Linked DNA regions of Homo sapiens: all the other regions are linked to region 1. Evidence: fine-mapped expression QTL. A gene starts in region 1. Each other region holds a variant in brackets. All regions are shown on one strand. Distances are between the middles of the regions. Region 1 holds the start of NDUFB11 (NADH:ubiquinone oxidoreductase subunit B11). Region 2 has its middle 37 kb from the start of USP11. Region 3 overlaps CDK16 (cyclin dependent kinase 16).

The links.
Region 2: its variant is fine-mapped to the expression of NDUFB11 in whole blood (TOPMed, PIP above 0.99).
Region 3: its variant is fine-mapped to the expression of NDUFB11 in whole blood (TOPMed, PIP 0.91).

Annotation. Positions count from the first base shown.
Region 1 is chrX:47,142,997-47,147,192 of GRCh38, forward strand. NDUFB11 (NADH:ubiquinone oxidoreductase subunit B11) reads right to left here and starts at 1,706. Exons shown (of 3, transcript NM_001135998.3): 1 at 1,477-1,706. The coding sequence starts at 1,683. It overlaps RBM10 (RNA binding motif protein 10), which reads left to right and starts at 2,225. Exons shown (of 24, transcript NM_005676.5): 1 at 2,225-2,489. RefSeq lists an enhancer at 2,249-2,518.
Region 2 is chrX:47,267,645-47,271,840 of GRCh38, forward strand. No RefSeq gene overlaps it. Among named protein-coding and RNA genes, the nearest start is that of USP11, 37 kb to the left of the region's middle. The variant G/A (reference allele first, on the strand shown) is at 2,612.
Region 3 is chrX:47,227,471-47,231,666 of GRCh38, forward strand. It overlaps CDK16 (cyclin dependent kinase 16), which reads left to right. Exons shown (of 16, transcript NM_006201.5): 15 at 1,097-1,174; 16 at 1,261-2,527. The coding sequence ends at 1,298. Among named protein-coding and RNA genes, the nearest start is that of USP11, 3.4 kb to the right of the region's middle. RefSeq lists enhancers at 919-1,419, 1,420-1,920. The variant C/A (reference allele first, on the strand shown) is at 1,607.

The DNA of each region.
Region 1 (4,196 bases):
CAGGAGGCACTCCCTAGTTACCTTGTCTTTCAAAGTTGAAGCATAGGAAACTGCTATTTTTATAGGTCACAAATGGTTGAATACTGGCAATTTCTTATAGCTCAAGCTAATGAAATAGCCCCCTACACCCAAGTCATTCTCTATCCACTTATCTTGCTTAACTTTGTCTTCACATCCTCTCTTCCTTCTGTCTCTTTCTAGTCTATGTTTACCTAAGTAGCATACTTTCCCCATTCTCTGTATATCATACATTCTCATGTTATATTATCTATTATACTACTTTGTATTATTGTTTTCTAATATTTTACTGTTTATTTTCTGTCTTCCCCACTATCATGTAAGCTCTATGAGAGCATGGGCTTTGTCTGATTTCCACACTGCTGTATCCCCAGGGCCCTGAACTGAGCCTGGCATACAGCAGGCCCTCAATACATATTTACAGAATGAACAAGCATCCTATATATCCAAGCCCCTTAACCAGAGGTTAGTATTGATGAAGTACTTATTATGTGCCAGTCTTTTCACATAGAAACACCTCACAATATCTCAGTGAGGTGAAACATGGCAATAATAAACACATTCTAGTGCTGAGTACATACTTACGAAGTGCCAGCTGCTGTTCTGACCATTTTTACTCATTTAATTACATGAGGCAGGTGGGGTGTCCTATTTTTTAGAAGGTGTCCTATTACTGTTCCCATCTTACAGACAAAGAAACTGAGGCACCAAGGGTTTATGCTACCAAGATCACACGGGTGGGTAACCGTCAGTGCTGCCTGATTTCACAGCGTCTGCTATTAATACAGCACAGCAGACCTGGTAGCCCTAAATTCAAATACCAGTTCCACCTCCACCATGTATTCAGTTATGTGAGCTAGGGCAATCCACTTAACATCTCTGTGCCTCAGTTTCCTCATCTGTAGGATGAGTATAATAATAGAGCCCACCTCGAAATGGGGTTTGTTTCGAGTATAAGATGAGCTAATGCATGTCAAGTGTTTAGAACACAGACGGGGCCCGGAGCGGTGGCTCATGCCTGTAATCCCAGCACCTTGGGAGGCCGAGGCGAGAGGATCGCTTGAGCCAGGAGTTCGAGACCAGCCTGGGCAACATAGCGAGATCTCGTCCCTATAAAAAAAAAAAAAAGAATGCAGACGGCAACGAGCAAGTGCCATATCGGTGTTTAGTATTATCGTTGTACTATACTGCTTCTAACGTGTTTTGAGCGCTGTCCACTTGAGGTGTGATTTCTGTCTGCAAAATAAAACCAATCCTGCCTCTGGCCCTGGAACGAAGATACCGAGAGACAAAGGAGGAACACAAGGTAGGCAAAATTCCCAAGTCTTCTAGGCTTTCGCCGGCCGCGCAGTCCTCTACTGCCTAAGAACGTCCTCTACAGCGCCCCATCTGCCGATCCCGGACTGACCCCTTCGGGGTTCCGTCCCCACTACCCCCCCCCCCCCCCCCGCCTCTCACCTTCTCATACAAGTTTTCGTCCTCGGGTTCTGGGTCCTCTTGCCACGGTGTGGTCGGTTCTGGGGGCCGCTTTCCCGCCACAGCGGACGGGGCGACCACAGTCCTGGAGAAGCTAGATTCCCAGCGGACGCGGGCGGCCGGGAGCCCTCGCGTCGCCGCTGCCGCCAAAAGACGGCGAGCGCTCAAACCAAACAGCCCAGCCGCCATGACAGATGGTGCTGCAGGGTCTCAGGGGCGGGGAAAGAAATGCGACTGTGCGCAGCTGCAGTGGGTGCGAGCGCGACAATCATCGCCCCGCCTCCGCCACGCTATATAGGTCCCAGATCTGATTTGGTTTTCCAATGAGGCGGGGCGTTGAGCAACCCTCTTTGCCTCCAGTTGTCGTGGCTTCGTGGGGCCAACCATTTTCGGCCAGGCTGAGAAATTTCTTATTGATGGGTCTGCTCATTTCCTGCATAGGAAGAAATCGGTGACATTTGGGTGGATACAGTTCCCAGCCAATCGCCCCGAGTTCCCTCGCCCACTGGGGAAAGAGGCAGAGCTTCCGCTAGTCTTTCATCTTCAAAGGAAATCAAGCTTCTAAAAAGCGGGCCCTGCCGAATTGGCTAATAGCTACTCCTTTTCTCCACTAGGGGAGCGTTCGCAAGGGGTGTGGGGAGGTGGCCAGCGCTTGCCAATCAGAGGAGGCCAGGGCTGTCCCCTAGCGGGCGGTGACCAATCGCCGGGGCCGGCCAGAGCGCGCTTCCTTAGTAGGTGGATGGTGGTCGGAGCGCCGACTCCCTTCTCGTCGTCGCCATTTTGAGCTGGTGACTGTGGCCGGCTGGGAGTAGGCGGCAGTGAGTTTCCCTGGGAGGGCAGCGCGCTTGGCGCTTCTCCCCTCCCCCCGATCTGCCTCCAGTCTCGGACTTGGTTGTTGCGCGCTCCGGCTCCGGCTGAGCTGGGAGAGTTGGAGGAGGTGGCGGCGGGCAGAGGTGATGTCTGGGAGCCCTTCCTTGACAGCCCGGGCCGAGAAGGTGAGCGTCGACGCTGGTCGTGGGGGCGGAGGTAAGGGGCCCGGGGCGGGGACGTAGAGGAGGCGCGAGGGCGGACTTCGGGTCGGGGGAGATGCGCGGAACGGAGGGGTTGGTGCAATGTCTCAACCCGGGAGGGTTTTTTTTTTTTTGGTTTTTTTTTTTTTTTTTTTTTTTTTTGGTGTGAGCAAAGGCGCGTGCGCGACTGGGACATGGGATGGGTGCATGCGGGTTGGGGGAAGGGAGGGACGGATGGGAGTGGGCTACTGTGGATCACTGTGTCGGCTACATCGAAGTTTATCAGTGGGGAAGCGGTTGTCTGCGACTTTGAGTTTGTGCATAGGAGAGGGGATGCTGCTCTGTGTTACTCTGGTGTTTATCGGTCCATGGGGAAATATTCTGTGGTTCTGGTCTCTATTCCTGGGGGATCGGAGGGGGGATGTGACTCTGGTCTTTACCCTTTGAGGGGGGGCGGTCTGTGACTCTGATCCTTATCCATGGGGCGGGGCTTGGGGGACGACTGTCTTTTGATTGACCCTAACCCACTTATTGGGTGGGAAGGGGCATGCAGGGAATGTGTGTGTGACTCATTGCCCCTTCTTTTGGGGAGTTTGTATCTGTGACACTGACGCTCATCCATGGAAAGGGGACCCACTGTGTAATTGTGGTCCTTACTGTGTGTTCCTTCTGTGATGTGGGCCCGTAGTTATTTGGGGCTCGTGTCTGTGACTGGCCCTTGGCTGTGGTGGATGTTACTGTGTGACTCTGGCCCCTTTGCCAGAGTCTCTTGAAGGTTTTTGTGCTCTCAGACGCCAGTGCCTCTGTGTGATTCTAACTCTTGCCCACCTGGGAGCAGGTAACTCGGGTTCCCTGTGGCTTGAGGAGGAAGAGAAAATTGGAGTGTGTTTGTCTGTGTATGTGTGTGCACGAGCATAGAGCAAAGGTGTGGCAGCAACCTAGTGTTGAGCAGGTGCTATTATTGCCTGGCTTTACCTGCTTCTTATTCAGAGGGTGGGGCCTGAAGATCTGGGATTCATCCTGACCTCTGGCTGGGTCACAGGGTTCTCAGGACTCCCTGAGTTCTCACCACAGCCCTGAGGGTTGGATGAAGTGGCTGCTGCTCCATCCCAATAGAAGAGCACAGTGGTTCAGAACAGCCTCCAAAAGGGCCCCTTTTGCCTCTGGAAACCGGGCTTGAGCCCTGGGGAGGGAACCACCTTAGGACCGGGCTGCACATAAGAGACAGGGCTCAGGGCTGAGCCAGTTGCTGTGTGAGGGCCAAGGCTGTGTTGGCCAGGAGCCCAGGGAGGTGGCAGCTGTCTCGTCGCCAAGTTCGCCCCTTCACACACCCCCCCAAGAGCCTTTCATGGTCTTTTGCTGCCTTATAGGGGACAGCCAGCAGCTTGTTGGGAGGATGAGATGGTCCCTTGGGGCCTGTGGAAGGAGCCTGGGGCCCCCATTGTTGTGAAGTCTTGTCTGATGTGCTGAATCTCAGGCAAGACTTTCAGCCCTGAGAGTCCCCTACCCCCACCCTGGGATGCAGCCCCAGGCTTGAATTTGTCTACCTGTCTTAGGTGGCAAAGCCCTGATCACACTGTGGGTGGCCCCGCCAGGTCTCTCTGCAAGATGCCCCCTGTCTGCTGAAGTCCTTGCTGTTTTCTAGGGCAGTGGGCTCTAGCCTTATGTTTGCGGGGAAAGGGAGGAGCAGGC
Region 2 (4,196 bases), 120 kb after region 1:
TTACTGTGGTCATACCCAGAGAAGTAACATTTTGTCTTGAATTTGTAAAAATCTCTACCTTTCCCCACAAAGGGATTTCAGCACAGTGGCTATTTTAACAGATACCGTGCAGCACGTACCACACGTTCCCTTCCTGAGTCCTTGAAAGTAATTTTCAGCTTTTGATCGGCTATATTGTTCTTCCCAGCTACATTTTGGGAAGTCCAGCAGAATAACTTGCTACTCTTTTAAAGGTCCTAATGATAAAACGAAACAAAACATCCCCTTTTTATCATCACCCACAAAGCCCTAATGCGTGCAACAAAGATTGTGAAACGTCCAGGGAACAGTTTGTGAGACAGAAAGGATGGCTTTGTTGATTAGCAAAAAGCTGGAACGTGGACACCGGCAACACAACAGGATTGGGACCCGCCTTCTTCAAGTGAAACAAAGTTGGAATTATTTTCAATTTTAATGTTAAATGGTTTTTTTGTTTGTTTCCAAATTATTTGAAAAGTTACTAATCCAAGCGTGGTATGAGTGGTATCATTTTGGTAATTAGATTAATGCACTACCAGATCCTAGAATTTCCCACTTTACCAAATAAAAGAATGTTCTGTGGAATTCTCCTAGACCAAGACAGGCTTTTCCCCTGAGCAATAGTGATAAAGTTGTCTAAATACATGAACTGGTGGCATTTTTCAAAAAGTAATAATGTTATAATCAAGAGGTGGTGTTGCTATGTTGCCCAGGCTGGTCTTGAACTCCCAGTCTCAAGTGATCTGCCAGCCTTGGCCTCCCAAAGTGCTGGGATTACAGGCATGAGCCACCGTGCCTGATGGTGGCATTTTGTCTTCTTCACAGAAAAAGTTAAAAGATGAGTTGGATGACATTGTGAATTGTGAACAACATAGTGAGATCCCGTCCCTTAAAAAAAAAAAACAAAAATTAGCCACGTGTGGTGGTGTACCCCTGTAGTCCCAGCTACTCAGGAGGCTGAGATGGGAGGATCATCTGAGTCTGGGAGGCCAAGGCTACAGAGAGCTGAGATTGCATTGCTGCGCTCAAGCCTGGGTGACAGAGTGAGACCCTGTCTCAAAAACAAAACAAAACACTGCCTATTTTATTTATTTATTTATTTTGTAGAGATTAAGGGGGGGGTCTCACTATGCTGTCCAGGCCGATCTCAAATTCCTGATGTCAAGTGATTCTCCTGCCTTGGCCTCCCAAAATGCTGGGATTACAGGGGTCTTTAAATGCTGGGGATTGGCATCTTTAAAATGAACACACTGTTTTAGTTTAAGAGACTAAAGAGGTGCATGTGTATGGAATAAATGAGCCTGGACTGAATCTTGTCTTTTAAAAAAGTTATAAAAGATGTATGGGACAACTGGGGAAAATTAAACATGGACTGGATATTAAGTGATATTAGGGAATTATTGCTAATTGTCTTAGGTGTGTAAACGTAACATGATAATGTAAGAGAATGTACTTACTTTTAGGAGATGCATGCTGAAGAATTTAGAATTGAAGGAGATTGCTGTCTGCAACTTACTTTCAAATGGCTGGAGGCCGAGCACAGTGGCTCATGCCTGTAATCCCAGCACTTTGGGAGGCCCAGGCAGCGAATCACCTGAGGTCAGGACTTAGACACCAGCCTGGCCAACATGGCGAAATCCTGTCTCTACTAAAAATATAAAAAATTAGCTGGGCATTGTGGTGGGCACCTGTAATCCCAGCTACTCGTGAGACTGAGGCAGGAGAATTGCTTGAACCCGGGAGGCAGAGGTTGCAGTAAGCTGAGATTGCACCACTGCACTCCAGCCTGGGCAACAAGAGCGAGACTCAGTCTCAAAAAATAAAAATAAAAATAAAAATAAAAAATAAATAAATAAATGCAACCTTGCAGGAAAAAGTACAGAAAAGACTGTAAGTCATGTACAGACACATGACTGAAATTAAACTACATAAACATTTCCTTATATCTGTACAGAGGCAGTTTCACGTAGTAATTAAGATTCTGGAGCTGGCTGGGCGTGGTGGCTCACGCCTGTAATCCCAGCACTTTGGGAGGCCGAGACGGGCGGATCACAAGGTCAGGAGATCGAGACCATACTGGCTAACACGGTGAAACTCCGTCTCTACCAAAAATACAAAAAAAGAAATTAGCCGGGCATAGTGGCGGGTGCCTGTAGTCCCAGCTACTCGGGAGGCTGAGGCAGGAGGATGGCGTGAACCCGGGAGGCGGAGCTTGCAGTGAGCCAAGATTGCGCCACTGCACTCCAGCCTGGGTGACAGAACGAGACTCCATCTCAATAAAAAGAAAAAAAAAAAAAGATCCTGGAGCCAGACTGCCAGGGTTCAAAGTCAAGCTCTGTCACAACTAGCCGACTGTGTGGCCTTGGGCACGTTATTTTTCTTTGCTGGACCTCACATGACCCCAGTGCTCAGTCTGGAAATTTTTGCCTGATGACATTTTAATAATTATTAAATCTAGATGGTGGACATATGAACATTTATTGTACTAGTCTCCGTACAAAACCTTTTTTTTTTTTTTGAGATGGAGTCTTGCTCTGTCGCCCAGGCTGGAGTGCAGAGGCACTATCTGGGCTCACTGCAAGCTCCACCTCCC[G/A]GGTTCACGCCATTCTCCTGCCTCAGCCTCCCGAGTAACTGGGACTACAGGTGCCCACCACCACGCCCGGCTAATTTTTTTTTTTGTATTTTTAGTAGAGACGGGGTTTCACCGTGTTAGCCAGGATGGTCTCGATCTCCTGACCTCATGATCCACCCACCTCAGCCTCCCAGAGTGCTGGGATTACAGGAGTGAGCCACCGTGCCCAGCCATGTGCAAAACCTTAAGTAAGCTGGGCTCAGTGGCTCACGCCTGTAATCCCAACACTTTGGGAGGCTGAGGTGGGTGGATCATGAGGCCAGGAGTTCGAGACCAGCCTGACCAACATAGTGAAACCCCCATCTCTACTAAAGATATAAAAATTAGCCGAGTGTGGTTGCAGGGGCCTGTTATCCCAGCTACTCTGGAGGCAGGAAATTGCTTGAACCCGGGAGGCAGAGGTTGCAGTGAGCTGAGATTGCACTCTGGCCTGGGCGAAAGAGTGAAACTACCTCTCAAAAAAAAAAAAAAAAAAAAAAAAAGTGTGCAGATAACCTTGGTTAGTGTTTTAGAATATATTACTTTAAAACAATCCCAAACTTACAGAAAAGTCACAGGTATAGTACACATAACTTTTCTCTCTGAACCACTTAAAGTTAAGGTGCTTAGTCACATACTTTGGTTGAAAAAAATAATTGTTAACCTGATGCCTGATCATCCCTGAATGCTGTAGTGTGTATTTCCTACAAATGAGAACGTTGGCCAGGCGCAGTGGCTCATGCCTGTAATCCCAGCACTTTGGTAGGCGGAGGCCGGTGGGTCACCTGAGGTTAGGAGTTCAAGACCAGCCTGACCAAACATGGTGAAACCCCATCTCTACTAAAAATACAAAAATTAGCCAGATGTGGTGGCGGGCGCCTACAGTCCCAGATACTCAGGGGGCTGAGGCAGGATAATCACTTGAACCTGGGAGGCAGAAGTTGCAGTGAGCCGAGATCACACCACTGCACTCCAGGGTGGGTGACAGAGGGAGACTCTGTCTCAAAAAAAAAAAAAAAAAAGAACATTCTCATATAACCAAAATATAGCCATCAAAATGTAATATGTTATTACCATCTAATCTCAAACCCCATTTAAGTTTTATCAGTTGTCTCAATAAGGTCCTTTCTAGTCAGGCATGGTGGCTCGCGTCTGTAATTCTAGCACGTTAGGAAGTTGAGGTGGGCAGATTGCTTGAGCCCAGGAGTTCCAGACCAGCTAGGGCAACATAGGGAGATCCTGTCTCCACAAAAAATACAAAAACCATCTGAGCCTGTTGGTTCGAGCCTGCAGTCACAGCTACTCAGGAAGCTGAGGTGGGAGGATCCTTTGAACCCAGGAGGTCAAGGCTGCAGTGAGCTGTGATTGCGCCACTGCACTCCAGCCTGGGCAACCGAGGGAGAACCTGTCTCAAAAAAAAAAAAAAAAAAAAAAAAAGGAAGAAGTCCAGGCCCGGTGGCTCGTGCCTGTAATCCCAGCAGTTTGGGAGGCTGAAGCCGGTGGATCACCTGAGGTCAGGGATTCGAGACCAGCCTAGGCAAAATGGTGAAACCCCGTCTCTACTAAA
Region 3 (4,196 bases), 84 kb after region 1:
TGAGTGGAGCTGGGGAATGGACCGGCCAGCGTGGGGACTGGGAAACAGGACTGCTGGGGCCAGCTGGCGGGTTGTGTAGGATTCTGGCTGTGCCACCTCTACGTGGGGGGACATCTTGTTCACGTGTGTGATGGGTTGTATTTGTTATGAAAACATTTTTTAGTTTTCAGTTCCTTTTACCTTTCATGAAAAATTTAAAACATACATAAAAATATATGCAATAGCACTTTACTTTTTTTAAAGTAGACATTTCCTTACATGTGCTAAAAAATGCACAAATCATAAGTATACTATACAATGAATTTTCATAAATGAAACACATCCTTGTAACTAGCACAAAAGTCAAGAAACAGAATGTTAAAAGCTCCCCACCCCCAGCTCCCTTGCATCTCCTTCAGTTATTCCCAGCCCCTTCCCAAAGGGTGGCCACTGTTTTGACCTCTAACAGCAAGGATAAGTTTTTTCTGTCCTTGTACTTTATAGAAATAGAATCACATGTGATGTTCTTTTTATATCTGGCTTTTAAAAACTTTTTAATATGGATATTTTCAAATATATGTATTTATATATTAGTCAAAGTAATATGATGAGTCCCTAAGTACTCCAGTGAGTCATCAATTCATGGTCAATCTGGTTTTATCTATATTCTCTCTGATTATTTTGAATCACATCCAATCCCAGACATCATAGCATTTATCCTTAAATAATTTCAGCATATACCTATAAAAGATTTTTTTAAAACAACAATATTATTATCAAACCTACAAAAAACATTTGCTCACTTTCCCTATCTTCCCACTGGATTAATATATAAAGCAAACCCCAAACACCACCCATCACCTAGACTTAACAGGTGGTAATTGCAATACCATAATTCACTTGACAAAGTTAATAATGATTTCTTTGTGTCATGTAATAGTCTATATTTCATCTTCCCTGGTTGTAGCTGGTTTGTGTATGGAATTGTTTGACAGATAAAGGTCAAGCCTCTCAGAGAAGGGGCAGCTTTTTCTAATTCTTCCCATGGGGTCATATGGGGCTGGTCCTAGATGACCTCATGGGTCATCCCCCACTTCTATGTCTCCCCCATCTGTAGCTACTTCCATATTTGCACTAAAGGAGATTCAGCTACAAAAGGAGGCCAGCCTTCGGTCTTCGTCGATGCCTGACTCAGGTAGGTATAGCCCCTTGTCTTCCTCCCTGCCCCACCCACCTACCTGCTTACCCACCAACAGCCATCTGCTCTGCTTTCCCCCACAGGCAGGCCAGCTTTCCGCGTGGTGGACACCGAGTTCTAAGCCACAGACCGAGGCCCCAGCAGGCAGCGGCTGGAGGGATGCCACACCCCTCACAGGGCAGCCCCCAACTACATCTTCCCTGCTTACTCTCTGCCTACCTGCCTGAGCCATGTTCACCTGCCCACTTGTCCCCTGCTGCCTGCCCAAACACCCCACCATTGGCCTGTCAACCCACCCATTGGCCTGTCTGCTGGGTGCTAACAAAGCTCTCATCACTCCTTCACTTGGTCTGTCTGTCTCTGTCTTGGTAGTTGCCGGTGGACAGCATGGCCGTGCCAGCCTCCCACACTGAGGCCAGGTCTACCCCC[C/A]ATCATACCAGCCCCCAGGACCACTACCCCACGGCCAGCCAGGGGTCCAGAGCTAGCCCAGGCTGGGGATCTCGACTCAGACAAGATGGTGACAATGCCTTGAGTCTGAGGCATCCTCTGCCTGCTTTCCTGCCTGCCCCACCTGCCTCATATTGTGTGGGCCTTTTTTTGTTTGTTTCATTCATTGTTTTTTTTTTTTTAATTATTTTAAATGAGATTTTTGTTTTTTTTAAATGCAATATCTCTGTATACAGACTGGCTGGGCCCCACCCCCTGCGTGTGGCCCTCCCACAGTATTTTGTGCAATGAAGCCCTGCTCCCAGCCTTTCAGAGACAGGGACACAGCCCCTATTTGGAACCCTGATCATCACCAGACCCTGGGATTGGCTATGGGAAAGCATGCCACAGCCACTCGCCTTCCTACCCCCGCCCGCCATCCCCAGTTGCAGGGGGATCTGGGGACTACCAGAGACTCTGGGAAATGGACAAGGTGGGGGGCCCCACTCTTTCTCTCCTGCAGTCCCGTAGCTGGGGCCTCCTTCCTTCTCAGGGTCTCCCCAGCCCAGTCCCCTTGCTCCCATCCCACTCGGTGCTGTTGGGTAGGGGCCCTGCCAGGAACTGACCAGCTCAGCGAGGAGCCATAATGTGCATATGTGCACAAGCAGGGTTGGGGGAGGGGGGTGTGAGGGGTTGTGCCCAGGTGTTGCCCCCTATCTCCTGGGGAGGGTGAGGCAGGGCAGGGACAGTCTCCAGGGTCAGTCCCTGGATGGGTGGTTACCTCCCCTTCCTCCACCCTAAGCCCTGGGGCCCTGAAATGGGGTGGGAGGGCAGGGGTGGGAGCCCTCCTAGTGGGTTTGGGGGGTTGGGTTCCTGAATGCACCATAATCGCTGTATGAAATATTAAAAAGTCTAAAGTGAAAAGCCTGCTTGCAAATCCCTGTAGGGGTGGAGGGTGGCCGAGCTGGGGTGATTATTGGGACCTTGGAGAATTCATACCTCATCACCACTGTCTAGGAAAACACTGGGAGTGGGCCAGGGACACGTCACGACTATGAAAAAGGCATCTAAGGTATTGCATATGTAACAGTAGAACATGGAGTTGAAGCAGGTAGGGCAGGCTGAATGGTGTTGATGGGTTGAGAAGCAGAAAGGGGAGTTAGATTTGCCCAGGAATATGAGGAAGCCTGATAAGAGGGTGGAGGCAGGGAAGTGGAGAGACGATGTTTGAAAGACACTGGACGGCCCAATAGAACCATGGATGGGAAGATGAGGCAAAGGCCCAGTATGGCCATCTGACTAGGAAACCATGAAGAGGAGGGAATGTTCAGGACGGTAGGGGGTAGATTTTGGACCACTGAGTAGGTAGAGAAATCCTTTAATACATGGATCAAATTAAGCAGTGGGGCCATAGATGGACCTGGAAATTTCAATTATTAGTGTCCAGGAAGTAACAGAAACCATGGGCATGGGTGAGAGAGTTTGCAAGAGGCCAGGGATCAATGACACAACCTGGGGTTTGCCCTCAGATATGAGGATAATTGAAACTTATTTTCTTTGTCCTGTGAGTTCCAGCCCCAGTCCCACCATCTTGGGCAAAGCCAAGGATTGTTTTCTAAGCAGAAGAGGGGGTGAGCAGGGCCAGGCAAATACTGCAAGTAATGGCAACCCTAATTAAGTGGCTGTTTACTAAAGCCCAGTGGTGGGGGCCCATGAACTTCTAATCACTCTACTGTGTGTGTTTGTTTTTTGAGACAGAGTCTCTGTCGCCCAGGCTGGAATGTGGCGGCACAATCTTGGCTCACTGCAACCTTTGCCTCCTGGGTTCAAGCGATTTTCCTGCCTCAGCCTCCTGAGTAGCTGGGATTACAGGCGTGCACAACCACGCCCACCTAATTTTTTATTTTTAGTAAAGATGGGGTTTCACCATATTGACCAGGTTAGTCTCGAACTCCTGACCTCAAGTGATCCACCCACCTCGGCTTCCCAAAGTGCTGTGATTACAGGTGTGAGCCACCAAGCCCAGCCTCTACCGTGTCTTTCTAAGCACTTTAGTGATGTTTCAGCTTGCAGCCTCATGGTGCCATGATGACTGCCATGTCCCCAGAGATGGAAAAGCAAGCAGGGAAGACAGAACACCTTCCTTACCTGTCTGTGTTCTTTTAACGGCTGGAACTTCCACAAGCTCCTCAGCAGACTTCCTGTGCCATTTCTTGGCTAGAATCAGATGACATGGCCACTTCTGGCAGCAAGGGAGGATGGGAAAAGGAGGGCCTTGCAAAGGGGGACAGGATTGCCAGGCTGGATTTAAAAGGTCTAGAACTCACCCAACTGCTCTGGGAAGTGGTAGGGTCACTGGTGTGGGCAGAGGTTGGCCTCTGGAAGGTGGAAAAAAAAAAACGGTCTAGGGCTGGGAAAGGAGGTCTCTTGGATTTACCTGGCTGCCCAGATAAATGGGGAGGGGGAGTCTGCAGAGGGGCAATGGGGAGAATCAATTCAGAGAATCTGACAAGATTCAACTGGGCTTGAAGAGCAGCTATCTGCCATGTGTCTGACTCAACTCAAATGCCACTTTCTTTGGGGACCCTTAAGT